Linked DNA regions of Homo sapiens: region 2 is linked to region 1. The links come from fine-mapping of genetic effects on gene expression. A gene starts in region 1. The other region holds a variant in brackets. All regions are shown on one strand. Distances are from middle to middle.

Region 1 (15,141 bases):
TTCTCTGCTGTGGGAGTGCCCTGTGTGTTGTAGGATGGTCAGCAGCAGCCTTGTCCTCTGCCTAGTAGATGCCAGCAACAATCCCCAAAATAATCATACCAAGAATGTCCCCGGGGGAGCAAAATCACACCCAGCTGAGAATCACTGTGTGGGGTGTGTGTGTGTATGTGTGTGTGTGTAGCCAGGTGATGCTGTATTCCCTTCTGAAATCTATCCCAGTGATTGGTACTCCATGGTCACTTTTGGGTCCTTCCATTTTCTTCTCTGGTCCCATGTCTAGTGGCTGCCAGGTGTTGCCTGTGAAGGGACTCGTGGATCGACAAAAAGACAAATCTATTGCAGTAGCTACCTTCTACTGCTACACAACAAAGTGCCACAAACTTTGTGGTTTAGAACCGCCCCCATTTATGAGCTCCTGGTTCTGTAGGTTGGAAGTCTGGGCCCAGCATGACTGAGTTCTGTTCTCAGAGTGTCAGATGCTGAAGGAAGGTGGCAGCCAGGCTGCCCTATCACCGGGAGGCAGGGGAAGGAATCTGTCTCCAAGCTCATTCTTGTTGGCAGAATCCGGTTCCTTGCATCCATAGGACTGAGGTCCCCGTTTCCTTGCTGGTGGTCTGCTGGGGCCCCTCTCAGCTCCTAGAGGTCACCCACATTCCTTTCCACATGGTGTCCCCCAGGCTGGAGTGCAGTAGCACAATCATGGCTCGAAGCAGCCTCAACCTCCCTGGCTCAGGTGATCCTCCCACCTCAGCCTCCTGAGTAGCCGGGACTACAGGTGCATGCCACCACACCCAGCTAATATTTTGTATTTTGGGTAGAGATGGGATTTTGCCATGTTACCCAGGCTAGTCTTGAACTCCTGGGCTCAAGTGACCCACCCCCTCAGTCTCCTAAAGTGCTGGGATCACAGGTGTAAGCCACTGTCCAGCCAGCTCTGCTTTCAGAGGGCTCAGTGAGCTGGGGGGCCCACTGGGATTATCTCCCTTTGTACAGTGGACTGCACCATCTAACACCGCATGTCATGGAGTAAGTCACCAGATCCGCATTCCCAGCATTACACTGGATATGTACACCAGGGGTGGGGGATCTTGCAGACATCCTGAAATTCTGCTTAATGATGACCAAAGGGCAAGAGAGGTGTTTCTGGGACAGGACATGGAGCCAAGGGGCAGGGGACCAGGTTGGGTGAGCAGGAGACGGAGGCCTGACCCCACCTCTGAGAGGGTCCCACTATATTCCTGCCCTCGGGGACACCCCAACATGTACCTCTAGGAGCAAGCATGGTGCCTGGGCAGACGTGGGCCTCAGGGGAGGGTTCTGGTCTCCAGTCTCCTTGCAGATGGAGCGTCACCATGTTCTGTACTTAAGGGCACAGTAAAGAAGCTGCAGGTGAGAGGAATGTGGCAGCTGGGCCACAGGACGGGGAGGGAGACTGAGTGTCGGCAGACAGGCGGGCTGGGGGACCACCATGTACCACCCCAAGTGACCTACAAAGAGACTTTAATTTGGGGGGATGGAGGAGGGAGGTGTTCGCCCAGCAGAGGGGACAGGAGGGTGGCCTTGGGCACGATGTTTGACTCCTGAGGTGTGGGAGTGAGGAGCTGGGCTTGTTGAAGATGGGCTGGGCTCTGTGCCCTGGTGGCTGAGTGTGACACAGAGTTGGGGACAGAATTACCCTCCAGCCCCCCAGCCTGTGAGCCCATGGTGAGGCTCAGGGCCACAGCAGGGCAAGGCCAAGGCAAGGGAGAGGCAGCTGGAGCAGAACTTGGGCAGGCTCGTTCTTGCACACACGAGACACACTTCAGAGCCCCCGGAAATGCAGAGGGGCCGTGTGCACGGCAGCAGTCTGCACTCATACAAGGGAGGCTAAGACCATGCACCTCACTTGTACTCTCAGGCTGCTGAGGCTGGGGGACAATGGGGTTACACTCTCCATTTCATTAGTGTAGGGCAAGGGGGACCCCAGCACCCCACAAGGGACCCCCTAATGTTGTCACCACAGAAGGCGATTGCTTATGTGCCAAATAATAAGCCATTTCCTGTGGAGTCAGGCAAAGGCCTGGGCCCTCCAATAAGTTTAGGGCAAACCCTGCACCCTGCACTCAGCGGCAGCCCCAGCCTCATCAGCCCCAGCAAGGCAGGGCCAGAAGCTGCAGGGACTGAGACACACACACAGAAAACTGGCAGGTGAACTAGAGCTTTTACTGAAAGTGCTCAGAGACCTATAAGTCTCAGCTCTGCAAAGCACTGTGCAGTTATATGTGTACATCATCCTGATAAATGTGTAAGCCTGTCCCCCAGGCTGCAGAGCAGCAAAGGGGCTAGGAAGGGCTGGTGAGCTTCAGGGCAGAGATTCACTTCAGCCTGCATCTGGGGAAGAGGCTCTTGAAACCCTCTTTCTCTGCTTTTCCACCTGCCCGTCCTTGCAACTTCAAGTGGCTGGAGTGTGGAAAGGGCAGTGTTAAGATTCAGAAGGCCCTGGCCAGGCGTGGTGGCTCACACTTGTAATTCCAGCACTCTGGGAGGCCGAGGCAGGCAGATCACAAGGTCAGGAGATCAAGACCATCCTGGCTAACATGGTGAAACCCCATCTCTACTAAAAATAGAAAAAATTAGCCGACGGGCATGGTGGTACACGCCTGTAGTCCCAGCTACTCGGGAGGCTGAGGCAGGAGAATCACTTGAACCCGGGAGGTGGAGGTTGCAGTGAGCCAAGATCACGCCACTGCACTCCAGCCTGGGCAACAGAGGGAGACTCCCTCTCAAAAAAAAAAGACTCCGAAGGCCCAGATTCTCATTCAGTCTGGGCTACTTCGAGCAGTCACTGGACATCCCGGGCCTCAGGCTCTTTCTCACTGGAATTTGAAAGCAGCTAAGATTCTGACACGGTCACCTCCAAATTGGGCCATGTTCTGGCTGCCAGATGCCTTCAGAGCCCTCTGGGGCCCAGCAATCTCCCCAGAGCCATCACCCAAGGGCCACAGCTGCTGCAAGAGAAAGGCCTCATGGTGTGGAGAGGACACTCTTCTTGCCAGTGTGGGAGACCCGGCATTCAAAAGAACAGTCCTCCTCAGTTCCTCACCTTGTGTCGGGAAAACTGATTTGTTGCCCAAATCTCATGACTGTGAGAACAAAAATCTGTGCTGATATGCAAACTCTGTCAGTGGAAAGAATGAACCACTCCTCATCCCAGGGAGAAACCTATGTTTTGGTTTTTCTCAGCTCGATTTTTCTGCCATATTTGGAGAAAAACTCCTTAAAAAAAAAATATCGACTGGGTGCGGTGGCTCATGCCTGTAATCCCAGCATTTTGGGAGGCTGAGGTGGGTGTATTACTTGAGGTCAGGGGTTCGAGACCAGCCTGACCAACATGTATTTTTAGTAGTCTCTACTAAAAATACAAAAAATTAGCCAGGCATGGTGGCAGGCGCCTGTAATCCCACCTACTTGGGAGGCTAAGGCAGGATAATCACTTGAACCCAGGAGGTGGAGGTTGCAGTGAGCTGAGATCGCACCATTGCACTCCAGCTTGGGTGACACAGAGTGAGACTCTGTCTCAAAAAAAAAAAAACACTCTCAAACATAGTTTATTATATAGGTGAATCCTGGTCCCTGTGATGGGCTTATTGGTACGATTTCTGGTAGCAAGCATAGGTACCAGGGCCTCCAACGTTTTTGGATTTGCAGCAACGGGGGTCAGCTACTGACAGGGTCCAGTCATGCTGGATGAGGATGCCTCTGGTCCTTTTGGAAGCCTCATCCATTTATTTCCGGTAATAGGCCACTAAGGCTTTGGAGATGGACTGATGTTGATAGCATAAATCTGGGTCACATGACCACCACCCTTCACACAAACATGCGTGTGCATGTCAGCAAATTGCTCCTTGCCCAGAGGCAGAACTAGGAACTAGTTCCAGCAGCTTGAATTGCAGCGCTCGGCTCCATCATCTCCAGGGGCCATCCATTCACCTTGATGAGGCCACTGCCATGTTTGCAGTGGATTGCACGGACTGCAGCTGGCCCTTGGATGGCATAGCCAAGAGCACAGATAAGAGCTCCTCACTGCACGGCACCGCAAGCGGAAAAGGCACCTCTCTTTTTTTTTTTTTTTTTGAGATGGAGTCTCCTTCTGTTGCCCAGGTTAGAATGCAGTGGTGCGATCTTGGCTCACTGCAACCTCCACCTCACGGGTTCAAGCGATTCTCCTGCCTCAGCCTCCTCAGTAGCTGGGATTACAGGCACACGCCACCATACCTGGCTAATTTTTGTATTTTTAGTAGAGACGGGGTTTTGTGATATTGGCCAGGGTGGTCTTGATCTCAGGTGATCTGCTTGCATCGGCCTCCCAAAGTGCTGGGATTACAGACATGAGCTACTGCACCTGGCCTTTTTTTTTTAAGTTGTCTCTAGGGACCTTGTAGATGTTTTCCTAGATCAGGCCATGACAGGACCAAGCAGACCACTTAGAGGGGAGGTGAGGCCCCTTTCTGCTGGATGAGGGCGTTTCTGAGGAGAGCTAGGGGGTACCTCAAGGCCCTGGGTTTGCAGGGAATGGATTTATTAACTGAAGAATAAAACACTGGGAGTGGGGGATGGCACAGTTTCTGAGATAAAAGAAAAATACTTGAACCCTCCATCAATCTGCCATGGGCTCAGGCAGACAGGCAGAAAGTGAAACAGCGGAGAAACCAAAAGTGAAAGGGTGCATTCACATTTTATACAACTTTCCCACCAAACAAACTGCCCTACTCAGAAAACACAAAAGAAAAAAAAATTAGGACATTTTCGGTGTGGGGCATGACAAGATAAGGAAGCTGCCTGGAAGCTGGGTGCCAACTCCATGAAATTGGGGGAAACTAATTGCTGGTCACGTGGGCCTCACCAGGGTGACAGAGATCCCTTCTTTCAGTCCTTTAAGATCTTTGGAGAAAGTCAAGTGGCCATACATAACGACAGGGTCTGGGTTTTGTTTATAAATAACCCAGGAACATTTTGTTGTTTTCAGTTTTCTAGGGCTGGGTTTTCCCAGCACACAGGGCTCTGGGGAGATTTGAAAACCATGGCGCGTCAATGAGAATGCTGCCGGGGCGCCAGTTTGGAGCAGCCTCATTGAGACGACTGAACAACTACTTCATTCAGGATCCTCAGCCCTGGGCCCTTCCCTAGATCAACCCAGAAACTGCATCTCCGGGGTGGATCCCTAACAGTGCTGAGTAGGAGGCAAACACTGTGGCTTCTAAGGCTGACCCGGGAAGTCTGGACTAGGCCCGCCGGAGGCTCCTCGTCACCAATTGGCATGCAGCCTCTGGTGACAGCTCTGCCTAGGAGCCTCAGTATCTTCTTTTGAGAATAACACCAAAAAAAAAAAAAAAAAAAAAAAAGGGGGGGGGCAGTAGCTTGTGTGCTTTACTATGATGAAAAGAATCAAATCAAAGCACTAAGGGGCGTAAGATTGCAGGCAGGGTTGGAATTACTTATCCGCTCTCCAATGGTTAGGGAGCAAGAGGGGAGGGCAAGGGAACTATCTATTCCCTCGGAAGGGATCTTACAAGCGGTAGGCGAACAAACCTCCCATCGTGTCCTCTCTAGATTCCACCACTCAGTTCCCCTGAGATATCCCCCGTTCTCAGATTTGAGTTCCTGCCTCTTCCTCTTAGCCTACCAGCCCAAGTTATCCCCTGATACAGGCCCCTAGCCCTCCAGGCTTCCACATCTCCCAGAAGCGAGGAAGTTGGACCTGAGGCTTTCAAAGTCGCAGGTTCAATTCAGATCTCTTTAAGAGCCCCCAGGGTCCTGCTACCACAGGTTGGTGTCTTGATACTGGTTACATAACAATCAGTCCCCAAAGCTCTGACATCACCCACTGAAGATTCTCACCAGCCTGGACAGCCAAAGGGGTCTGTGTGTGGCCGGGGAGGATGGCGGGGGAGTGAGCCCCATGGAACAGCCAGGAACTGGTAAGGGGAGGTAGGGCACAGATCCCAGTAAATGATGGTAAATGGTGGTGACCCCGAGAGGAAAGTGGAAGTATTTGGGTTTTTAAACTTCCCCCTAAATTCCCACAAGATTTCATTGTTGCCCCCACACTTCCCCTCTTCCCCACATAGGGAATTTCCGATTTCACTTCCCAATACGCAAGTGGCCAGAGAGCCTCAACTTCCTCCTCATGCCCTCCCTGCCTTGCCCCAGCTATAGCCTTTGTGGGGAAGCCTTCTCTTCTCCCGCGCGAGTCCGGTGTCACCCATGTCCTCCCTCGCTTGCGTCCCTCTCCCATTCCCACCCCGTCGGCCTGAGGGGAGGTCAGGCCTCTCGCTGCCCATTTTTCTTTCCCCAGTCACCAGCCCGCCCCGGATTCTCTACTCCCTCAGCTTGCTCTGCTACCACTTTCCTGTCTCTCCCTCTCCCAAAGCAGATAAAAGATGAGGGGACAAAGACAGTGTGTGTCTGGGAAGCTGGGCTGAGAGGAGGAGGTGCCGCCGCCTGGGGGTACTCCGATGCTTCCGGGGATTCCGAGCCAGCTGGAGGACCGCACGTGGCGAACGGCGGGCGCGGCGCGTAGTCAGGGAACCAGGGTGCCTGACTGGGTGTCTCGTGGAGCCATCCCGCGGGGGTGTGGGGGGGCCACGGTGCCGGAAGGCGCGCGGCCCAGAGGCCGTCTCCGCCGAACGCCCGCTCCTCGCCTTCCTAACCGCAGCACTTTCGCGAGCCTCCCTACGAGGGGCGGGGCGAAACAGGTGCGGTTGCCACGGCACCCGGACCACAGCCTCGCGAGATTTGGAATCAGCCAATGGGGGCGGGGTAGGGGAAGACGTGGCACCAGTCGGAGGGGCGGGGCTGGGAGGGGCTCCTCCCTACCGCCCCCAATTCCGCCCTGCCCCCGCCGCGGCGGCGCTAGCCGCCACTGAGGGACCGACCCTATAAAGGCCGCTCCGCGAGGGGTGCGCAGCATTCGGCAGAGGGCGCTTCGACGGGCTGGGCTGTGCGCCTGCGCAGTGTGGGTCGCTCCCGATTCCCTGCCCCGGCCGGCCCCGCCTCGGCTCCGCACCCTCGCCCCGCTCTCAGCCGCCGCTCTGCCCCGCAGCAGCCAGCCCCGTGTCCGGCAGTATGTTCAGCTGGGTCAGCAAGGATGCCCGCCGCAAGAAGGAGCCGGAGCTCTTCCAGACGGTGGCTGAGGGGCTGCGGCAGCTGTACGCGCAGAAGCTGCTACCCCTGGAGGAGCACTACCGCTTCCACGAGTTCCACTCGCCCGCGCTGGAGGACGCTGACTTCGACAACAAGCCTATGGTGCTCCTCGTGGGGCAGTACAGCACGGGCAAGACCACCTTCATCCGACACCTGATCGAGCAGGACTTCCCGGGGATGCGCATCGGGCCCGAGCCCACCACCGACTCCTTCATCGCCGTCATGCACGGCCCCACTGAGGGCGTGGTGCCGGGCAACGCGCTCGTGGTGGACCCGCGGCGCCCCTTCCGCAAGCTCAACGCGTTTGGCAACGCTTTCCTCAACAGGTACCCACCCATCACTCCAGGGGGCGGGGGGCGCGTCCGGGGCACACCCCTCACTCGGAGCCTGACCCTCCCGTGGCTGTCGCCCCGCCGTCCTTTGTCTCCGAGGCCCCAGTGAGACCCTCAGTGACCACTCCCTGGTCCAAGGGCCCTGCCCCTTCCCAGAGTAAACCCACTGGGGGTCTAAGAGTGGGCGTTGTCGGCTCCCCCAGCTTCTGTCCTCCCCAGAATCTTCCAGGGTAACCACCAAGCCCTCCTGCAGATCCCAGCCCCACTCCCCTCAGCAGCAGGGCCGCAGTAGGAAGCTGAGCCATTCCTGCGCTCCTTTTCTTGGTCTCCACCTCCGTCCCGCAGGCTGGATGCACCTAATTCACGGAAATCAACCCTCCCCTCCCTGTCTTCTTAAGTGTCAATAGCAAAACACAATGAAACTTTTAGCCATTCCCTTCTCTGGTGCGGTGTGGGTCTGCTCTGCCTCCCCTGGGACGGTGGTTTTGTGTAGGAGGGAGGAGGAGGATCGGCTGTGGCTTGCTGACTTTGGGGCAGCCCCTTGGAGGCAGGGGACAGTTGAGGTTCGAACACTTCTCCCAATGGCAGCTCTCAAGAGGTCAGTGCTGCCCTGAGGGGTTTCAGGAAGCAGGATGAGGTGGTGGCAGTGGGAGCCCTGCAATGAGATTCTGGCCCTAAGCCCTTCTGTGCACTGAGGGACAGAATCTGAGGTTCCTTCACCCACTTGGACCTCACTTTTCCAGTTAAGTGGCCTCTGCACGCGAGGAGAGTGAGCTCCAGGACTCTGCCTGTCTCAGTGCTGTGAATGAAACACAGTGCTCCCGCCCCTCAAGGAGTGCAATGCCCAAGCTCACTTTTCTCCAGAGAAACTCGAGACATGCCCGTCCCAACCCCCAGGCGACATACCAAAGTACTTCACAGACCCTGTCCTCCCTGCCACCCCACGTTCACGGACTCCACATGCCTTTCATAATTCTGCACCAGCGAAGAGCCTCTGAAGGAATCTTTGAATCCTGCCTTCCAGGTCCCCGCCCTGCACGGTCACATTCCTTTCCAGACGCCATCCAGCTGTGCAGGGCAGCTTGCCCTAGAGCCAAGCTGGTGGCCAGGCCTACTCCAGGCACAGAGCTGACCTTCAGCAGGGTCTGTTCACTTCCAGGCATTTCAGCCCGCCCTCCTGTTTTACGGCTGTTGATGTTTGTCTGTCAAGGCCAGGTTGAGTGCAGCCCTTTGGGCTAAGGGTCCTGAAGAGGCGGAGTCCTCTTCACTTTCCTTGTGAGGGCACACCTTTTTTGAAAGGAGAGACATGGCACAGGACCAGTTTTCTGAATTTGGAAGCCTAGAGTTTCAGAGCTGGAAGGATCTTAGACATCATCTTGGCAGCCCCCACCTGACTGGTTCAGGAAACCGAGGTTCAGAGGGTCTGGCTGATGTGTGGAAGTCACCCATTAGGTCAGCCAGCACTGACTGCCTGGCTTTTGCACAGCCAGTTACTGCTTTCTGCTGCTTCTACCCGAAAAAGAGCAATTCGAGATTGCTTTGTCCGAGACCGGTGCTTTGATGACATTGGTGCCACAGGATCTGAGAGGTGGCACACGTTTATTTCCTTCTTGCTGCCACCTCATCTCCAGAGGATCCCTGATCACTGATGGCCCTGCCGAAAGGGCCCTATCAGCCCACGCTGAGGCCCAGAGCTGTGCCAGGATGTGTAGTGTGGGGAGTGAGCCCGGCGAGGAGGGTGCAACAAAGGAGGCTTTTCTCTGGCTGATACAGCCTCTCCCAGCTGAGTCTTGAAGAGACTCATTGAGTCGTGAACTTGACTTGCCGGCCTTCTCCCCCTATGTGGCTGCTCTAAGAATAAAATCAGCTGGAGCAGACCAAGGCAAGGTGCAGTCAGGGTGTCTTAAGAGTGTCTTGCAAAAACTTATTGCATAACTGGGACTGCCACTTGTGCGAGATGAAACCTGTGCGTTCTTGGTGAGATGGAATCGGAGGCATCTTTGCTGCTTCCCCTTTCTTGTTTTCTGCCATATACCCTGGGCTCTGCAGAGCAACTGGTTTCTGGGTCCTATAGATATTAACTCACTTTCTGGGCTCATTTATGAGGCATTTTTATGTATGTGATTTCCCAGAGCCAATTCTGCTTCCCATCCTTCTATTCTGTAATCATCTCTCCAGCGCCTCCTGTCCCCAGCAGGAAGGCCAGGACTGGCCTTCATGCATTGCTACTGGCACTGGCGAGAGTGAGGCCCACGTTTTGCTCGCCCTGCAGGTCAGCTGGTCTTGCTCCACTGCCTTGCAGAGCACCCCTTGCCCTGGCCAGCTGCCCTCTGCCCGTGGGCCCCTGGTCACTGGGGGATGGGGCCAAAGGGAGAAGCTGATCGGCTCAGAGTCCTCCCGTCTGTTGGAAAGGCAGCTTCAAGTCTGTGTCCTACAGATAATGGGTCAGTCTTTTCTTTGCTCTCACTACCTTTTTCAGAGAAGTTTTTTGTTTGTTTTTTTGAGACAGAGTCTCGCTCTGTTGCACAGGCTGGAGTGCAGTGGCGCACAATTTCGGCTCACTGCAAGCTCCACCTCCTGGGTTCGAGCAATTCTCCTGCCTCAGCCTGCCGAGTAGCTGGGACTACAGGCGCGTGCCACCATGCCCAGCTAATTTTTCTATTTTGGGTAGAGATGGAGTTTCACCATGTTGGCCAGGCTGGTCGTGAACTCCTGACCTCAAGTGATCTGCCTGCCTTGGCCTCCCAAAGTACTAGGATTACAGGCGTGAGCCACCACGCCTGGCCTTTCAGAGAACTTTTCAAAGGAGCTTTTTCTGCGTCCAGTGAAGGATCCCTGCTCTCAACTGAGACTGCCCCTTGCCTTTCTGGGCTGTTCTAAGCTTAGTGTGAAACTCAGATATGCGTGGCTGAGCCCTGGCCCGCAAGTCGCCAGCCTCTCCACGGCTTTGTTCTTCCTCAGCCTGCTCGGACTTTCAGAGAATGGCGCGTCTGTGCTTCTCCGTCCCACCGTCTACCAGCCTGTGTGGTCCCCAGCTTTTGCCAGCCGTCCATTTCAATTCCCTCACCCAAGCGGCTGGTTGAAAGGGCAGGGCTGGCCCTAGCAGCAGTAGGAAGCGGCCAGCTCTCTTCAGTGTGGAGATTTAGCCAAGTGCTGGAGGATTCTGAGATGGGATTTCAGCGCCCCAGCGTGACCTTCTGCTTCCCCTCCGAACTGAATGGTGACCTAGGCTTGCACAGTTTTCACTAACAAGTCAGCAGCTTGAAAGTTGACCTCTCAAACTCTAGGGGAAAAGTGTGTGAGGAAGTGCTGATTTGGGTCAGTTTGAGCCTGCTGGTTGCATTCCCAGTTGAGAAAGTCCATACGATTTGCCGGCCACCCCGGGAAACTAAGACGATAGAAAACCACCTGTCAGTTCCCCGCTGCTGGAGAGGAAGCCAGAGATGGAGCGAAGGAGTACAGAGAGCCCTTTGTTGTGTCCGGAGCAGTGATGACTGTGTCTTGACGCCTCTCTTCTGGCTCTTGCTCTCATGTAGGTTCATGTGTGCCCAGCTGCCCAACCCCGTCCTGGACAGCATCAGCATCATCGACACCCCCGGGATCCTGTCTGGAGAGAAGCAGCGGATCAGCAGAGGTAAACAGCTGTGACCACAGCTCGGGCTGCTGGTGTTGTCACACATCCTTCTCTCTAAGATCTGCAACTTGGTTCAGATGCTGCCCTTGAGATTTCTCCTTTTTTTTTTTTTTTTTTTTGACGGAGTCTTACTCTGTCACCCAGGCTGGAGTGCAGTGGCGCGATCTCAGCTCACTGCAACCTCTGCCTCCTGGGTTCAAGCGATTCTCCTGCCTCAGCCTCCTGAGTAGCTGGGACTACGGGCATGTGCCACCACGCCCGGCTAATTTTTGTATTTTTCGTAGAGATGGGGTTTCACTATATTGGCCAGGCTGGTCTCGAACTCCTGACCTCATGATCTGCCCGCCTTGGCCTCCCAAAGTGCTGGGATTACAGGCGTGAGCCGCCACACCTGGCTGCCCTCGAGATTTCTTCCAGTCTCAGCCTTTCTAAAAAAAAAAATGTGGCCGGGCACGGTGGCTCACACTTGTAATCCCAGCACTTTGGGAGGCCGAGGTGGGCGGATCACGAGGTCAGGAGATTGAGACCATCCTGGCTAACACAGTGAAACCCCATCTCTACTAAAAAATAGAAAAAATTAGCTGGGCGTGTTGGTGGGCGCCTGTAGTCCCAGCTACTCGGGAGGCTGAGGCAGGAGAATAGCGTGAACCCAGGAGGTAGAGCTTGCAGTGAGCCGAGATCGCGCCACTGCACTGCAGGCTGGGCGACAGCGAGACTCCGTCTCAGAAAAAAAAAAAAAAGTGTCCGAGTAAGAACCCATTTTACATCAGCCTCCCATCTCCACAGTGCTCTGTGCACTGAGAGGGCGGGAGCTGCTTTCTTTCTTGGCTCCCTGGGCCTAGGCAATGGGAGCAGCCATGGTGAGACCACAGCCAATCTTATGTGGCTGTCATGCTTTTGAACCCCTGGGGCATGCTGGAAACAACAGGATCAGAATCGGGCCATGCTGTGAGGGTGCAGGAAGCATTGCTGACTCTGAACAAGCCCCTGGTCCCCAGAGCTTATTAGCTTTAGTCTGTGTTTAACAGCCTTTGCCCCCCAAAGCCATATACATTCCTCACACGTCCAGCAGGACTGAGAGAGAGCCAAGCAAAAGGAGAAGCTGGTAGAAATTCATGAAACGGGCTGGTGGAAATTTGCTTACATTTGCTTAGAGGTTGACAGCAGCCTCCCTGGCTGAGGCCTTCTTGCTATGCAGTAGTGCACCGTGCCCATTCCAATTGTGTAAACTCCTGCCTAGATTCTGCCAAGCTCTTTTGAAGATCTGGTTCAGGATGAGCCTGAACTGGGTCCTCCATCTGTCACTGCCCCTTTTTCACAGACGGGTGGGGCGCTTTGGGGCCTGATGCTTTCTGGGAGGAGCTTGAGGGTAGGCTGGTACCTGGCAGGTGAGGAGTGGAGTCTACAGCTCCAAATGTGAAAATGAAATAAGATCAAACTCAAAGAGGGGTTGAGGACAAGTGAGCAAGTTTGTTGATGATTAACTTGCAGATCCTTCCCGTGTCCCTTACCCTCTGGACTGGCCTTTGCTGGGTGAGCCTTGCAGTCAAAGCCGGCAGCTAGGATTTGGGGTGCACATGTCTCTCTGCTAGGGCTGTGAGGGCATGGGGACTCTGTTCTTGGAGCTGAGAAACCTTGCTTCTCTTTCCTTCCAGCCTTGCGGGCCTTGCCCGTGTGGGACTGCATCAGAGCGTACTGAAATCACTGGCCCTCATCTGGTTTCAGAGCTGCCAGTTAAGCTGTTAGATTCTCCCACCCCTGGTGACAGTGATGCACCTAGGAGTTAAGGGAGTAGATTTGGAGACCCCTTTAAAAAAAAAAAAAAGCGAGGGCTAGTATTTTTATTTCTTACTGCTATTGTTGTTCCAACCTAGTTTTAGTAAATGCCGGATAAGCAAAAGCCCTGTCATTTGCCAAAGCAAGGTCAGAAAATCTGATTAAGTTACTCTTTTATTTTTTTGAGACAGAGTGTCGCTCTATCGCCCAGGCTGGAGTGCAGTGGCATGATCTCGGTTCACTACAACCTCCTCCTCCCTGGTTCAAGCGATCCTCCCACCTTAGCCTCCTGAGTAGCTGGGATTACAGGTGCATGCCACCACGCCTGGCTAATTTTTATATTTTTAGTAGATATGGGGTTTCGCCATGTTGGCCAGGCTGGTCTTGAACTCCTGACCTCAGGTGATCTGCCCGCTTCGGCCTCTCAAAGCATCATCACAGCCTTGAACTCCTGGGCTCAAGTGATCCTTCCACCTTAGTCTCCCGAGTAGCTGGGCCCACAGGCGCGGGCCATCATGCTCGGCTGGGGTTGTATGTCTTGTGTTGCTTGCCTTGGCCCCTGCCCTCTGAGATGCTCCCTCCCCACCTCCCACTCCCTCTGCTTCCTTTCCCTGGTAGGAAAGAGGCAGGCAGAGGTGTCTACACTGGCTGTCTCTGGGACAAGCACCAAAGTGTATGCTCCATATCAGTGGATCTGCAGACACAGCATGGCGTTTTGATTGGGAGCAAGGGGTGGACGTAGGTGTTGCCTTGTGGTCCCTGCCCTGGAGTTGCCTGTGCAGACAACAGGTTGGAGGAACAAGCCAGCAGGACATGAGGCTGCTGTCAGTGTGCTGCCCTGCTCTGCCTGTGTGGCCTCCCTCTCCCCTCCAGGTGCAAAGTGTGGCCCCTCTGCATCCCTGAGAGGCCAGGCTCCCCTATATCCACAGAAGGTCATCTCTACCCATTATGGGCAGGAAGGAGCCGGTGGCTGAAAGAGAAGCACATCACGCTGATTGGAGGAGGGGTTTCCTGCTGTGAAGTAGCAGAAGATCAAACCGATTTTACTAGACCATTTCTTTTCCTCCATAGCCCTAGAGGCCTTGGTTTAGATGTGTTTTACTAAAAGTTACCTGGTTAGGGTTTGAATGATGGTGTTTTATTGTCAGGAGAAAGACCATCGCTCAGTACCTCTTGGAGGTGCTGGGTGTAAACTCCAGGATGAGCCCCGCTAGGTGTACACAGGAGGAGTGGATTTCTGTTTCCTGGAGGCCCCGCCCGTCAGTCATGGAAAGGCCCGTGTGGCCTGTCCAGCGGAGGAGGTCGGAGTGGAGCAGTGCGTTCCCGGCAGGGCTGGCCACCTGCTACTGCCTTTGCTGGTGGCGTGGAAAGCAGGTGTTTCCCTCTCGGAAAGATGGGGCCGGCAGAGCACGCACCAGGGCCCCAGCACAACACGCCTCCCCTGGCCTGCCAGCCCGTTCCCTGGAAACATGTCCTTGTGGAGGCCGTGGATGGACATTGGGGTTGCTAATTGCATTTACTTCCATTTCCCACCCCGTCTGGCCCCGCCTGGCCCCTCCTGACTTTTTTTCCCCTTTCCCCATGGTCCTAATGTGTGCAGGAAACACGGTCTGAAAAGATAAGGTGGGCTGGTGCAGGCCCAAAGCAGTCAGGATGCAGCCAGGCTCTGTCAGGGACCCCTGAGGACTGCCTCAGGGACGAGAAGGGGGCCGGGTTGGGGTCTCTTGGGCTGCCTTTGCCTGTGTGCTAATCTGAGTGACTTTAAAGATACCGTTCTCCTGTGTCAGCAGAGAAAGGTGGCCTCTGGGGGCTGCGTTCATTCTTGAGTGCTGCCTGTGTGACTGATAAGGGCATTCCAAAGGGCAGCTGGGTCCGGCAGGGGTGGTGCCCTTGGCTCCAGGGGCTGCCGACCAGTTGCGTGGTCCCGGCAGTGCCTCATGCCGAGTCATCCCCCGGCGGGGCCTCTGTGGGCAGCCCGGCCAGTTCGTTCGTTCCCCACCATGGTCACTAGGCAACTGTGAACTAAGCGGGAGTTTTTGTGTCTCAATCTCCCCATGAAAGCTGTATCAGCATCAGCAGGGTAGTGTTTCTACTTGCAGTAGCAGATCAGAGACCTGGCCAGCTTTGTGTCTGACTTTCTGCTGGCCACTGCCACATCAGTGAGTTCCATTGAGTTATCACAGCAGCTGCATCTAGGAGGAAGCTCCTGCCTTTCAG
Region 2 (15,141 bases), 24 kb after region 1:
ACTTTGTTTTGGAGAAGTGTTTAAGACCCAGGAAGGGGAAGTGGTTCGTAGCACTTCCTGGGCTTCTTGTAGAGCAGAGGTCAGCAAACTTTTTCTGTAAGGGTGGGATAGTTAATACTTCCAGCTTTGCAGACCTTATAGTTTCTGTCACAACGACTGAACTCTGCTGTGTTAGACAAAAGAAGCCATGGATAATACAAATGAGCATGGCTGTGTTTCAATAAAACTTTATTTATACAAACAGGTGGTGGGCCAGGTTTGATCCCTGAGCTGTAGTTTGCCAACCCTTGTTGCAGAAAATAAGTGAGATTCCTGCAAAATGGGGAGCCTGGCACATCAGCACTGAAAAAGTAGCAGCTGCAGTTACTTTTGCAGGCGCCTCTTGTCACTACCGTCCCAGGGCATACAGCAGGCAGGTGGCAACACTGGAGTCTATGTTCTACCCTCTGTGCTGTGCTGAGCACAGTGCTGGGTCTCCTCCTCACTCTCGCCCTCCTCTGACCCACCTTAGAGCTTGCACTGTGGGACGACCTTTGCATTAGCACCTGTTTATGCCAAGTGCTACATGGGTTGGGGAGTGTTATGGTGGGGGCAGGAATAGGGGAGATAATCCTGCCCTCAGGGTGCTGTGCTGTCTAGATGAACACCTAGGAATTTTTTTTTTTTTTTTGAGACGGAGTCTCGCTGTGTCACGCAGGCTGGACTGCAGTGGCACAATCTCGGCTCACTGCAACCTCTGCCTCCTGGTTTCAAGCAGTTCTCCTGCATCAGCCTCCTGAGTAGCTAGGACTACAGGCATGTGCCACCACACCCGGCTATTTTTTTTTTTTTTTTTTGAGATGGAGTCTCACACTGTTGCCCAGGCTGGAGTGCAGTGGCGCAATCTCAGCTCACTGCAACCTCTGCCGCCCAGGTTCAAGCAATTCTCCTGCCTCAGCCTCTCGAGTAACTGGGATTACAGGTGCCCACCACCATGCCGGGCTAATTTTTGTATTTTCAGTAGAGACAGGGCTTCACTATGTTGGCCAGGCTGGTCTTGAACTCCTGACCTTGTGATCCACCCACCTCAGCCTCCCAAAGTGTCGGGATTACAGGTGTGAGCCACTGTGCCTGGCCTTTTCTTTTTTTTTTTTTTTTCGCGACAGTTTTGCTCTTCTTACCCAGGCTAGAGTGCGGTGGCATGGGCTTGGCTCACCACAACCTCCACCTGCTGGGTTCAAGCGATTCTCCTGCTTCAGCCTCCTGAGTGCTCGCGCCACCCTGCCCGGCTAATTTGTGTATTTTTAGTGGAGACAGGGTTTCACTATGTTGGCCAGGCTGGCCTCAAACTCATGACCTCGTGATCCTCCCACCTTGGCCTCCCAAAGTGTTGGGATTACAGGCGTGAGCCACCACGCCCGGCCTATAGGAATTTTAAAAACTATCTCAGGCTGAGAAATACCAGGCCAGGTTGGAGATGAGAGCCATCAGAGCAGCAGGTCCCTTGGCGCCCCTGAGCTCTCCCTTCTCTTCCCCCCAGGCTATGACTTTGCAGCCGTCCTGGAGTGGTTCGCGGAGCGTGTGGACCGCATCATCCTGCTCTTCGACGCCCACAAGCTGGACATCTCCGATGAGTTCTCGGAAGTGATCAAGGCTCTGAAGAACCATGAGGACAAGATCCGCGTGGTGCTGAACAAGGCAGACCAGATCGAGACGCAGCAGCTGATGCGGGTGTACGGGGCCCTCATGTGGTCCCTGGGCAAGATCATCAACACCCCCGAGGTGGTCAGGGTCTACATCGGCTCCTTCTGGTCCCACCCGCTCCTCATCCCCGACAACCGCAAGCTCTTTGAGGCCGAGGAGCAGGACCTCTTCAAGGACATCCAGTCACTGCCCCGAAACGCCGCCCTCAGGAAGCTCAATGACCTGATCAAGCGGGCACGGCTGGCCAAGGTAGACCCTGGGGTGAGGGGAGCAGCCTATTGCCAGGCAGGGCCATGGGGCTCTGAGACTGGCACTCAGGGCCCCAGGATTGCCCGAGACCCTTCCCAGCTCACTTCACAGGCAGACCTGCACTGCGCTGTTTCCCTCTATAGAAACCAGTCTTTGGTCAGCACCCGCGTGCAGCCTGCTCTTAACTAAGATTCTCTACCCGGCCTCCCTCTAAACCTGTTCTGTTTGTGGTTTATACCCCATCTACTTTCAGGAAGGGTTTGACTGTGCTTACAACACAGAAACAGCACACAGGAAGTTACCGCTGAAGCAAAGGAGGCAGCCTCAGAAATGGAGTGTTGGGGGATAGAGCTCTAAGGCTTGTTGGCTTCCCTCTAGGGTTTTTTGTTTTTGTTTTTGTTTTTGAAGCGGAGACTCGCTCTGTTGCCCAAGCTGGAGTGCAGTGGCATGATCTCGGCTCATAGCAACCTCCACCTCCCAGGTTCAAATGATTCTCCTACCTCAGCCTCCCGAGTAGCTGGGATCACAGGCACGCACCACTATGCCCAGCTGATTTTTGTATTTTTATTAGAGACAGGGTTTCACCATGTTGGCCAGGCTGGTCTCAAACTCCTGATCTCAGGTGATCTGCCCACCTCAGCCTCCCAGAGTGCTGGGATTACCCCTCTGGGGTTTACTGAGCCTGAAGTGCACTCAGCACAGTGCTGGATGCCGGGTACTGGCGGGGAGTGACACACAGCCCCTGTCCACTCCTCAGCCTTCATGGGGAAAGCAGAGCACGCAAACAAAAAATAAACATCAGTTATTTGTGTCGTCTCGGAGCGAGCACAGGCTGCTGCGGGAGCTGGCGCTAGGGGCTGTCCCAGTGGAGTAGAAGGGCTGGGGGGGCCTGGCAGGAGCTGAAGCTTAAGCTGTGACAGGAAGCAGCTCGTGAGGAGACAGGGTGCCAGCCTGCAGCCCGGGGAGCACTGTGCATGGAAGCCAAGGTCACGCTGAGGCAGTGTCAGTTCAGCAGGCCTTGCAGACCATCCTTAGGTCTCCTGGCAGCCCAGGCCTGGTGGCACCTATCAGCAGCCTCTGAATGGCCAAAGGGTTTGGAATCTCAGTGGCTGACCAAGTACTTGAGTGAGAGCCGGTGTGGGTGGGGCCAGGAAACAAAGGTTAATGCCACCAGCGGGCCCTTCCAACACAGAATGACAGAACACATGCCCTTGGCGTGTCTGACTTTGGATAGCACCCTATCGTGAGCCAGCCTAGACGAGTCACCATGAGTGACAGTCCCGGCTGTGGTTGGGGTTGACCCCGTGGACAGGAGTGTTTGACACAGATTGTCTGAACAGCTGAGAAGTGACCAAGCCCACATTTGTATCAGCAGGGCACCTAGCTATTCTTTCAGGCTCTTAGCACAGGGCTCGGTTGTTTCAGAAATAGGCTCCAGCCAGGCATGGTGGCTCATCCTGTAATTCCAGCACTTTGGGAGGCCAAGGTGGGTGGGCGCATCACCTGAGGTCAGGAGTTCGAGACCAGCCTGGCCAACATGGCAAAACCCCATCTCTACTAAAAAAAATACAAAAATTAGCCGGGCGTGGTGGTGCGTGCCTGTAATCCCAGCTACTTGGGAGGCTGAGACAGGAGAATCACTTGAACCCAGGAGGGAGAGGTTGCAGTGAGCTGAGATCACACCACTGCACTCCATCCCAGGTGGCAGAGCAAGACTCTGTCTCAAAAAAAAAGAAAAGAAATAGGCTCTGGCCAGGCATGGTGGCTCACGCCTGTAATCCCAGCACTTTGGGAGGCCAAAGCAGGAGGATCCCTTAAGGCCAGGAGTTAGAGACCAGCCTGAGCAACCTAGTGAGACCCTGTCTCTATTTAATTTAAAAAAAAAAAAAAAAAAAAAGGCCCTTGCCGTAGCTCCTATCTCCAGGCCAGCCAGGCCGGAGCGTGGCTGGGGAACTGTCCTGCCTGCCAAGCCAGGCCCTTTGGTGATACGTCCCCAGTTCTTCAACAGAGCAGGGTGCTTGCCCCCACCTCATGGCATGCAGGGGGTACCAGGGTAGACATCATGTGGGCATGAAGGCTTCAGTGACAGATGTGCCTGTGGCCAGGGTCACAGTCCCCTGATCTCCAGAATATAACTGAGGACTGAGGATGGGCACTTCCTGGGGAGCCCATGTCCCTGCCTGCTCAGAGGCATGGAGACTGCAGGCGTTGAGCACAGTGGCCCTCGTACCCACTCTGTCTGGAGGCCAGTCAGAGGGCATGTGGGTGCTACCTGGTCTGAGCAGTGAGAACTGACCCTTCATCCTTTGCCACCACTGTCCTCCCATTGTGCCCCAAGTACCCTGGGCCCCACCTCACCCTGTAGATGAGGAATTCTCATTCTGGCCTGAACCTCCGTGAGCTGTGTGCACGGGCGTGGGTCAGATGCCGGCTCTGGAGGACAGAGGGCTGCGTGTTTTTCTTATTTTTAATTTTATTATTTTATTTTTTGATTTTTTTGGAGATGGAGTTTCACTCTGTTACCTAGGCTGGAGTGCAGTGGCGCAATCTCGGCTCACTGCAACCTCCGCTTCCCAGGCTCAAGCCATTCTCCTGCCTCAGCCTCCTGAGTAGCTGGGATTGCAGGCGCCCGTCACCACACCCAGCTAATTTTTATATTTTAGTAGAGACGGGGTTTCACCATGTTGATCAGGCTGGTCTCGAACTCCTGACTTTAGGTGATCCGCCTGCCTCGGCCTCCCAAAATGCTGGGATTACAGGCGTGAGCCACCGCGCCCGGCTGGCTGGATGTTTTTCTAGATCTCTCCCTTCTGGAGCCTCCCTGTGAGTGGAGCCAGCTTTGAGAGAGGAACCCATACAAAAACCCAGGTGACTGACCCTGGCCTCAAAGGACAAAGGACGTCCTGAGCTGAGGGGTGTGGGTGTGGCCCTAGCTGAGTTTCTCTCCTTGCAGGGCAGAGAGAGCTCCCTTGCTCAGCCACCTTTGAGGACAGACAGGACAAGGGGCAGGCATGAGCCCCTGCCTGGTCGTCTGTGAGACCATGTGTGACTGCCAGGCCCCAGGCACACTGAGTCACCGCGCCTGGAAAACCCTGTGGCCTCCAGTGTTGCCTCACACCTGCCACTTCCTTTTCCTGGAGTGAGTGGTGCTCTCTGTGATGACTCCCACCGGCCTGGGATCTGCCTGCCACAGTGTCCCTGGGGAGACTCTAGATCCAGACCCACATGGCACGGGGCTGCCTCCCTCAGGCAGTTCTCAGCCAGGCCCCCACCCAGGGCACAGGCTCAGGCTGAGCGGGGTGGTGGATGGGCTGGAGCCGGGGAGAAGGGCAGCAAGGCTGGCTGGCCGCAGCCCTCTGTGGCTGGACACGACTTGGCAAGGCCGAGGGATCTGAGGGCTGGGCTACTCTCGAGGGCTGCCAGGTTCCCAGCTTGCTGCAGGGAAATGAAGGGGGTGCCGCCCTGAACAGGCACATGCCTAAGCAAGGTATTGATGCTTGGATAAAGCTGGCAACCACCAGGAGAAGCCTTTTTGGGATTTTTCAAATCCTTCGTCATCCGAGCTGTGATGATGGAGTGGAGCGTGGCACGGGCCCATTGGAGTTCTGTGGGCTCCATCGGCACTCAGCAGGGATTTGGACGTGCAGGCTGGTGGGCCCTGCAGGAAGCCTGCTCCCTGCTCTGCTGCGTGGGAGGGGGCAGCTCGGGGGAAGGGGGCTTGCAGAGAAACAGAAGAACATGGGCTGTGGGGCACCTTCAGCAGCCCGGGGTTCCAATCCCAGCTCCTCCATGTGGGAGCCAAGCACCCCAGGCAGCCTTTCCCAGCCTTGCTTAGGGCCGGGTTGGGAGAATCCCACCCCGCAGGGCTGTGGTGAGGGTTGAACGGAGGGTGTGTGGTGAGGGTTGAGCGGAGGGTGTGTGATGCGTGGTGAGGGTTGAGCGGAGGGTGTGTGATGCGTGGTGAGGGTTGAGCGGAGGGTGTGTGATGCGTGGTGAGGGTTGAGCGGAGGGTGTGTGATGCGTGGTGAGGGTTGAGCGGAGGGTGTGTGATGCGTGGTGAGGGTTGAACAGAGGGTGTGTGATGTGCCCAGTGGTACACGACAAATTGCCTTCTTTGGGTTGACAGACTGGGTTTTACTCTTCCTGAATCATCACAATGATCCGTGCAAGGCCAAGGCTGTTGTCTTCTGTTTCAAGTGCGTTTTCCTGTCCTGTCCTCTGTCCTGTGGCAGTGGACAGCTGTGGCTCTTGCCAGATTGTGTCTGCTCCTAGGACTGTGGGAGCCGGTGGTGGTAGCGGCCTTGAGCTTGACCCATCCCTCCTGCTTCCCTGTTCCTGAGCGAGCACCTTGGAGTATCCTTGGAGTGTCCTTGGAGGCTCTGCTCTCGGGGGCAGCCTGGGCCAAGAGAGCGCCTGATGCTCACCCCGTCCTCACAGGTTCACGCCTACATCATCAGCTCCCTCAAGAAAGAGATGCCCAATGTCTTTGGTAAAGAGAGCAAAAAGAAAGAGCTGGTGAACAACCTCGGAGAGATCTACCAGAAGATTGAGCGCGAGCACCAGATCTCCCCTGGGGACTTCCCGAGCCTCCGCAAGATGCAGGTACGGCTGTCCCGAGGCCCCATGCAGGCTGGTGGCCATCAGGGCAGAAGGAAGGCCCAGGGCACTGGATTTGGAGGGAATCCCATCTCCATGGGGAAGGGCCTCCCTGAACGGAAGCAGCTGGGTTAATCACCAGCACCCCACCCAACTCAGAGTTGACCCAGGCGGTGACACTGCAGAGGGGAATGTGGTGACTCACCCTGCGTGGTGGGGGGAGGGCAGGGCCATGCCAGGCGCTCTGGTGCCCTGTCCATGAATCCTTGCCGCAGCCCTGCAAGGAAAGAGCTGGAG[G/A]TGCCTCCTGTGTACAGGTTAGAGAGCCAAGGGCCAGATGGTTTTGCCGAGTCGCCCCTGCTAGTGTGGGGGAGCAGCACTTTATGCTTGTGAAGCCCTGACTGGAACCACTTGGCCTGGAGTCTGGGAGGGGCCTCCCTTCCCAGCCCTTGTCCTTCCTCCCCCGCCCACAGGAACTCCTGCAGACCCAGGACTTCAGCAAGTTCCAGGCGCTGAAGCCCAAGCTGCTGGACACGGTGGATGACATGCTGGCCAACGACATCGCGCGGCTGATGGTGATGGTGCGGCAGGAGGAGTCCCTGATGCCTTCCCAGGTGGTCAAGGGCGGCGCCTTTGACGGCACCATGAACGGGCCGTTCGGGCACGGCTACGGCGAGGGGGCCGGCGAGGGCATCGACGACGTGGAGTGGGTGGTGGGCAAGGACAAGCCCACCTACGACGAGATCTTCTACACGCTGTCCCCTGTCAACGGCAAGATCACGGGCGCCAACGCCAAGAAGGAGATGGTGAAGTCCAAGCTCCCCAACACCGTGCTAGGGAAGATCTGGAAGCTGGCCGACGTGGACAAGGACGGGCTGCTGGACGACGAGGAGTTCGCGCTGGCCAACCACCTCATCAAGGTCAAGCTGGAGGGCCACGAGCTGCCCGCCGACCTGCCCCCGCACCTGGTGCCGCCCTCCAAGCGCAGACATGAGTGATGGCGCCCGGCCCCGCACCTGCCATTTGCACGCCCGGCCGGGAGGCAGAGACGGGGGGAGGGGAAGCCTCACCATTTCTCAAGGTCCATAAAGACTGAGCGGATGTTTCCTCGCCTCTCGAAAAGGAAAACCACCATCTTTCTTTTAAGGCTGTTCCTGGGCCTGGCGGGGGAGGCAGGGGTGAGAGGATGGAATTGTGTGCACAAGAACTGTGGCTATTTTAATATATAACGTTAGAGGCTGCGTTCTTTGTCGCCGCCTCCCCTGTGTGCCAGCCCTGTGTGCACGGCCTCTGCCCCCCGGCCTTTGCTGTGGCTGGAGCTGGACAGTGCAGCGACTGCGACCGTGGGGGAGCCAGGTCGCCCTTTTGGCAGCTGCTAGGCTGAGGCTGCATGGACAGGAACACCAGGCACCCTCCGTGTGCTTCTGAGCTGAGGTTGCTTCACGGGACCGTGGCTTCCTTCCTCACCTGGCTCTGCCTCCCCCGTGCTCTCGGGCGAAGTGGGTTCTTGTGCCTTCCCCTCCCGGGCCCAGGCTCCCCGTGCGCGGGCCCTGCCCTTTCCTCCCGCGCCCCACCGGCTCCGACGCGCAACCCCGCTCAGCAGTCACAGAAGCAGGGCCCAGCCACCTTGGTCTTTTTTTGGGAGTTCAGGGGAGTAGGAGAATGTCTTCCAGAAAAATACATAAGCTAGTTTCTGTTCTGTAAAGTGATATCTTTCATACTTGACCAAAGTTCCCAATAACTTCCCAACCACTGTTCAAAAGCTGTGATTTTTGTCTCCCCTTCCCACCCTCCAGCCAAGGAGCAGCCCTGCCCAGGGGGCATTAGGTGTGGGTACCCGGGGAGCACCCCGTTCCTGGACCCCAGTGTTGCATTTCCTGGCTGAGGAAGGGTGGTCATCCCAGCTCCTGCCCTACCCTCTCACTTAACTGGAGCTTTGGGACGCACCCTCCACAGTGGGAGGTGGTGGTGGGTGGCGGTGGCGGGGCCTCACGACAGCTTGGTGCTGGTAAGAGGAAGCCCGTGGTTCTGGCTAGGCTCTCATGTCCAGACAGCGGGGACCAGGGGAAAACCCAGCCCCTTCTGTAATCCCCCTTCATTTCCTACCTTCCTTCCTCCTCTGTTTAGCAAAGGAGGGCAGCTCACTTGGATGTCCTTACAACGCCCCTGGCCCCCAGGTTGAGCAATAAGAAACCAGAACCTTGCGGCCCAGTGGCCCGGGCCAGTTCAGGCCGCCTCCCCCTCCTCTGCCTGGGGCCATTGAGCCCAGCCTCCAGGGCCCGGGCGCGTTTGCAGGCCAGTGGCCACTGTCCGGGCTGTGATGGCACCAAGGCAGGTGGAGCACCAGGTACCACACAGCTGGGCTTCCCACCAGGCTTTCCCGCGGGGGTCTCAGGGAGCTTCTCCCCAGCGCTGCTCGGAGTCTGCAGGAACTGGCCTTGTTCTCCTTAGCCCGTCACTCCATACAGTATTAGGTGAGGATGGATGCGGGCGCTGTCCTTGCCGGGAAGTCACTGTTGAAGTTGCAGTGGCTTGTTCACACCTGTGGGAAGAGAAGTGAAGACTTTCTCCTTGCATTAAAAAGTCTGAACTGTGCGAAAGCTTCGGGTGCTTCCTTGTCTTTTCCAGGGGCAGCAGTCCTGGGCCATCCTCCCCTGGTGTCTGAGGGGGTGATGCCAGCAGGGACAGAGTGGCAAGGCAGCCGGGGCAAGGTGACCAACCCTGCCCAGTCCTGCTCTGCTGGGCAGTAGCTGCCCCCTCCTACTAAGAGGGCCAGGCCTGTAGGGAAAAGGGTTTCTGGGGTGATGCCCCCTTCCCTGAGCAAGGTGGGAGCTGAGCAGTTCACTTGGGGTGGGGAGGGGGGAAACAGTTGGGAGGATGTTGATAGCTGAGGCCTAGGCTGGCACCCCTCAGCCACAGACGGATGAGTGGGCACCTGCAGGCCCTCGGCACTGGGTGGCATCAAGTAAACAAGGGTTTCTGGGCTTTGGAGCCAGACTGGCTCCTTGCTAGCCCCAAGGACGGTTTAAGTACAGGGAAGCCGGGCCTCTGAAGACAAAGCAGATAGCCTGTGACAAACATGCAACTAAGGGTGGGGCCAGTCAGGCCCAGGTGATGTCACAGATGGGGGACTGTTTATACCAGCAGAGGGAAGGGTGACTGATTAGTGACCCTTCATAAAAGGGTGCAGACTTGAGGTGCCATGGGTAGAGGCTGCTCCAGCCCCTCTGGCAGAAGGCAGGACAGAAACAAGTTCCTGAGGGTTTCAGGGACCCAGTTGTGTGCTCCGAGCCTAGCTGGTGTGGTGGTGTCTGGTCCTATGACCAGCACTTGAGGTGCCAGTGGATGCTTCAGTTGCTGCAGGGCTGGCCGGCCCTCCCTGCGTCACTCAGCTGCCACCTGTGGGCATTCACCCTGTGCCAGGTGGAGCTGCGCTGTCACGATCTGAGGAAGTTCATGTTCCCCCATTTCACAGAGGGAGAGTCCGAGACTGAGGACTGCCGAAATAACAAAGGTGGTAGAAGCAGATGCAAACCAGGCCGTCCAACTCCAGCGTGCTTTCCATCAGGTTACTAATCCAAAGCACACACTAAGAGGAAAAAACGGTAGATCCCCCCAACCCCACCCTTAGACTGCAGCTGTACTCAGGGCTGAGAGACCCACATTAAAGGTTAAATGCTGTCACTCCAGCCTGGGGTCCTGAAAGCTTGGGGCAGGGGTCACCCAAGGGAGGTGGAGCATTTTTGTTCAAGCTGTGAGCACATTAGAGAAGGCACAGAACTTAGCAGTGCCCCTGAACTAGGAGGAAGGGAAGTGCTGCCTGGCCGCCCGCTCTCCTTCCCGGAGCACTCCACCTGCAGGGCTCTGTGTGGCCACAGAGGGGCTGTGAACCCCCTGGGGCTGCCCCAGGAAGCGCCTGCTGATCTGAGGCTTGAAAGGGGCTGAGGGCAGGTGTCTGCCCCAGAGTTCATAGCCCTGGTTTCGGTTCTACAGGTTGGGGATCATCTTTGGGCTCCGACCGGGGTTCAGGGAGGACCAGAGGATGTGGTCAGAGATGTGGCCGCCCACCTAGAGGGCTAGTCCCAGCCCTCGCCTCCTCCCTAGATCCATAGCTGGCCATGACCCTGGGGAAGAAGCCTCCTCTTCAGAGGCTGGCCTGGGGCAAAGGAGGGGCATTGCCACCCAGCTACCAGAGCCCGTGGACTGAGGCCTTCAGGGCAATCTGTCGCCCACGCAGCACCTCACAGCCCAGGACCCAAGAGGCAAAGGGCCCGCCCACTGCCTCTGGCCATGCACAGCTGTTTTCTATGTTGCAGTTCCTTGTAAGATCTCATTCAGAATAAACATTTCTGGCTGGGTTTGGTTCACACCTATAATCCCAGCACTTTGGGAGACCAAGGTTGGGGGTGAGGTGGGGTCGTGTGAGGCCGGGAGTTCAAGACCAGCCTGGGCAACATAGTGAGACCCGCCCCCCCCCCCGCCCCCACACCATCTCTACCAAAACAAAAATTAGCCAAGAGTGGTGATGGGTGTCTGTGGGTAGTCCCAGCTACTTGAGAGGCTGAGGTGGAAGGTTCACTTGAGCCTGGGAGTTTGAGGCTGCAGTGAGCTATGATGGCATCACTGTACTCCAGCCTGGGCAACACAGTGAGACACTGTCTCTATTTAAAAAAAATTTTTTTTAAATAAACATTTCTTCTCCTTAGAAAAGAAGTTAACCACAAATCCAGTCAGTGCCCTGTTCTTATCTCAAATGGGTGTTCTAGAAGAATAGACCAGTAAAAAATAAATAATGGCCGGGTACGGTGGCTCACATCTGTAATCTCAGCAATTTGAGAGGCCGAGGAGAGTGGATCACATAAGGTCAGGAGTTTGAGACCAGCCTGGCCAATACGGTGAAACCCTGTCTCTACTAAAAATACAAAAATTAGCCAGATGTGCTGGCTCTCGCCTATAATGCCAGCTACTTGGGAGGCCAAGGCACAAGAATCGCTTGAACCCAGGAGGCAGAGTTTGCAGTGAGCCAAGATCGCACCATCGCACTGCAGCCTGGGCGTCAGAGCAAGACTACGTCTCAAAAATAAATACATAAAATAAATCAAATGGGCTAGTCATAGGACTTGCCCGGCCACGGCCAGCAAGGTGGTGAGAGTTGGGAGGTGAGAACATCCGGCCACCACTCCTGTGTTAAAAGCGCACCAGGTCTGGCAGCACGTGGAGGGCAGCCTTGGGGAGACCGCCCTGAGTTCAACTCCCAGCTCTGCCACTCTAGCCAGATCTCTTCCCCCACTGAGGCCATTTCCTCAAGCCTTAATTCAGGAACAGATGTGGCCCACAGAGGCAGAGCCCGAGGACACCCACCTTGAGCGGCCTTTGCCAAGCACCCCAAGGAGGTTAGTCGGGTGGGGTGCAGGGAGCAGGGCACCTCACCCAATACCCAGAACAAAACAGGCCAGCCCCTCCCTTCCCTGAAGCAGCTCCCAGACTCAGTGGCGCCTGTAGGCTAGTGAGGTGGTGGCCAAGTGGGCTCGGGCCTGGCTTCCTGTGCACCCAGAGGGACTGATAATTGTAAAACCACATGGGGCTGCAGCCGCTGCAGAGCGTGGGAGCCCCTATGGCTTGTTGGAACACTGCAGGGAAGGTTTTTGGAAGAAAAACCAGGATGATGAAACCACCATATGTCCACCCATTTGGAGCTTTGGACTTTTCATAGGACACGCCCCTGGTGCTGGGCAGATGGGGTTGGGGAGGGGGCTGCCAGGACTAGCTGGGGGACTGGGGGGTCCACACCCCTAGCATTTGCATCAGCTCCTTCCCAAAGCCATCCCAACAGACGCACCTTCAAATAAGAGCCAGGCATCTGAGGCTCAAGGGTGGGCTTAGGGAGCTCCCCGGCTCCAATCACATTGCCGCCCGTGCTCCTTCAGAGAAAGGTTGGGACGGCCATTGGTGGCCATACTGGGAAGCTCATTTGTCTCTCACACCTGAACAGGTGCAGTTCTCCATTATACACAAAAAGACAGCGTCCAGAGAGTGAGGAAGAGATCTACCCAAGGCCCCACGCCTGGTCAGCAGCGGGCAGGGCTGCAGGACCCAAGGCCAGCCTCTCATGTCCTGACCTCCTGGGTAGGAGCGGGCCACTATGCCATGTGCACGTTTCCAGAGTGGCTAAGGGCAGGGGGCGGCCGCCATTCCTGCCAGCCCTGAAGAACCATCTGGTGGGAGCTGCTTCCCGAGGCCACGGCTGGAGACTCTCATCCTAGGCCTTCCCCTGAAGGCTGATTCTCAGGACTTTGAGGAAGGGGGCGCTCCAACCCTGGGCTCAGCAGCCCTCCAATGTGGCCAGGATGCCACAGACCTGGGCAACCTGCCTTGTGTCTGGGCTCCCAGCCACAGAGGGCTATGCCCTTGGGGGCAGACACAGGGTTCCCTGCCACTTCCTCATGCTGGGTTCTCAGGTCCTCTCCCTGCCCCAACACACCTGCCCTCTGCAGGGCGAGTCTGCACTCAAGGAAGGAGCTCAAGGCTGGCACCACCTCCCTCCCCAGCTTCCATGCATTAGTCTATAAAGGAGGGTAATAACTCTCTCCTAGTGTGGCCCTTGTGAAGATAATAGATCTAAAGTCACTTTAAGTTACCAAGAGGCCCCTTACACTTGCAAGCTGTTATCAGCATGAGTGCTCCCCACAGAGCTGGGTGAGAGAGCTAGTGATGTCCCTCAGTACCAAGGGGCTTGCGGGATGAGTGAGAGGCTGCGGGGGGTAGCTGAGCCCTCCTGCACCTGGGGAGTAGTCGACCATGGAGGAGGCATTTGAATGAAGGTACCCTGGTGAGAAGGAAAGGAAAGAGGGTGGCCTGACTGCCTGGACAGGGTGTGACTGAGGCTCTCGGGGGTGTCTCCTGTCAAGACTCACCCATCCCTGTGAGCTGGGCCTTGGGCTGTGCCATGCTCAGGGCTCTGTGGGGAGCGTGTCAAGGCTGCTGTGGCCCTAGTGGTCTGGCCCCACAGGATCAGAAAACAGATCTGCTGAGCCAACATGGTGCCATGCCCTGGAGCTGCTTCGGGCAGTCAGGGCTGGAGGCCTGGCTGCTTGCTAAGGCTGGAATAAGCTCAGAAAGAGACTGAGCCTTTACAGACTTCCTTCCATTGGAGCTGCAAAGGAATGAGCAGGGGGCCCAACCCTCCCCCTTTATTTTTATTTATTTATTTATTTTGGAGACATGGTCTCATTCTGTCACCTAGGCTGGAGTGCAGTGGCACAATCTCAGCTCACTGCAAGCTCTGCCTCCCAGGTTCAAGTGATTCTCCTTTCTCAGCCTCCCGAGTAGCTGGGACTGCAGGTGTGTGTCACCATTCCAGGCTAATTTTTGTATTTTTAGTAGAGACAGGGTTTTGCCATGTTGACCAGGCTGGTCTTGAATTCCTGGGCTCAAGTGATCCGCCCACCTTGGCCTCCCGAGTAGCTGGAACTACAGGCTCTCACCACCACACTCAGCTAATTTTTAAGTTCGTTTGTAGAGATGAGGTCTCACTATGTCACCCAGGCTGATCTTGAACTTCTGGGCTCAAGTGATCCTCCCACCTCGGCCTCCCAAAATGCTGGGCTTACAGGCATGAGCCACCATGCCCGGACCCAACCCCCTTTTACAGACAAGGAAATTGAGGCTTACAAGACAGATGTGACAAAAACTAATAAAGGACCAGAAAGAATCACGTGTGAGAGGCGGGAGGTGCCGAATGCCAGTCCCAGCCCTGCCCCGTGCAGCCCTGGCCTCAGCCCTGGGACTCAGTGTCCACTCAGCTATACTGTGTGGGGATGGACAGATGGCTGGGGATGAACCTTTCTGAGAACTTACCAGAGAGGTTAAGGGACTTGCCTGAGGTCACACAGGGAGTGAGGCAGGGCCCAGAGGCCTCACCAGGGGTGTCCACGAGGGGCAGCGGAGGAGAGGCCCATCTTCCCACCCAGGAGCCCTTCCCTATCTCCGGTTCCCTAATGCTGGCTGGAGCGCCTGTCCCTCCTCTGGTCTCTGGCGCCCCCGTGTGGCCTCAGTGAGCAAGCCCCTTCCTACCTCCTGTGGGCTCCACCCCTGCCCCGCCCCTATAAGGAGGGCTCAGAATCTCTCAGGTGAGAGGGATCTGAACTCCTGCCCCCTCCCCCTTCCAGGAGACCAGAGGCAATGAAGGGGATCCCCAGAGTTTGGTTTGAATCCTGGCTCCCCATCCCATTCTGGTTGATTTAGGTAATACACCCAGACTCTGTTTCCCCAAACATTTCTCAGCCCATGGGCCCTGCGTAGCTACAGGGCGGGCCTCTGGGGAGATCACATGGGAGGCAGGGCGAGTCTGAGACCAGCCCCGGGCAATGTAGAGAGACCCCAGCTCTAAAAAAAAAATTAAAAATTAACCAGGCGTGGTGGTGCAGGCTTGCGGTCCCAGCTACTCAGGAGGCTGAGGTGGGAGGATCACTTGAGCCCAGTATGTTGAGGCTGCAGTGAGCTGAGATTGCATCACTGCACTCCAGCCTGGGTGACAGAGCAAGACCCTGTCTCAAAAAAAGGCTGGGTATGGTGGCTCATGCCTGTAATCCCAGCACTTTGGGAGGCCGAGGTGGG

What was found. PIP is the estimated chance that this variant, and not a neighbour inherited with it, causes the effect.
Region 2: its variant is the best candidate, but not a certain one, in a credible set for the expression of EHD1 in whole blood (INTERVAL, PIP 0.55).

What each region holds. Positions count from the first base shown.
Region 1 is chr11:64,870,428-64,885,568 of GRCh38, reverse strand. EHD1 (EH domain containing 1) reads left to right here and starts at 6,948. Exons shown (of 5, transcript NM_006795.4): 1 at 6,948-7,508; 2 at 11,051-11,148. The coding sequence starts at 7,105. It overlaps MIR10392 (microRNA 10392), which reads left to right and starts at 6,960; the gene lies at 6,960-7,046. It also overlaps the pseudogene RPS16P6. RefSeq lists enhancers at 4,430-4,519, 4,580-4,629, 4,800-4,949, 8,272-8,371, 8,035-8,811 and 2 more and silencers at 6,562-7,121, 7,142-7,191, 8,042-8,111, 11,643-11,833.
Region 2 is chr11:64,846,715-64,861,855 of GRCh38, reverse strand. It overlaps EHD1 (EH domain containing 1), which reads left to right. Exons shown (of 5, transcript NM_006795.4): 3 at 1,520-1,932; 4 at 6,370-6,534; 5 at 6,999-10,214. The coding sequence ends at 7,523. Among named protein-coding and RNA genes, the nearest start is that of CDC42BPG, 9.6 kb to the right of the region's middle. RefSeq lists enhancers at 6,779-6,838, 6,080-7,279, 6,527-7,525, 7,526-8,524, 9,842-9,971 and 5 more and silencers at 8,122-8,181, 14,618-14,707. The variant G/A (reference allele first, on the strand shown) is at 6,826.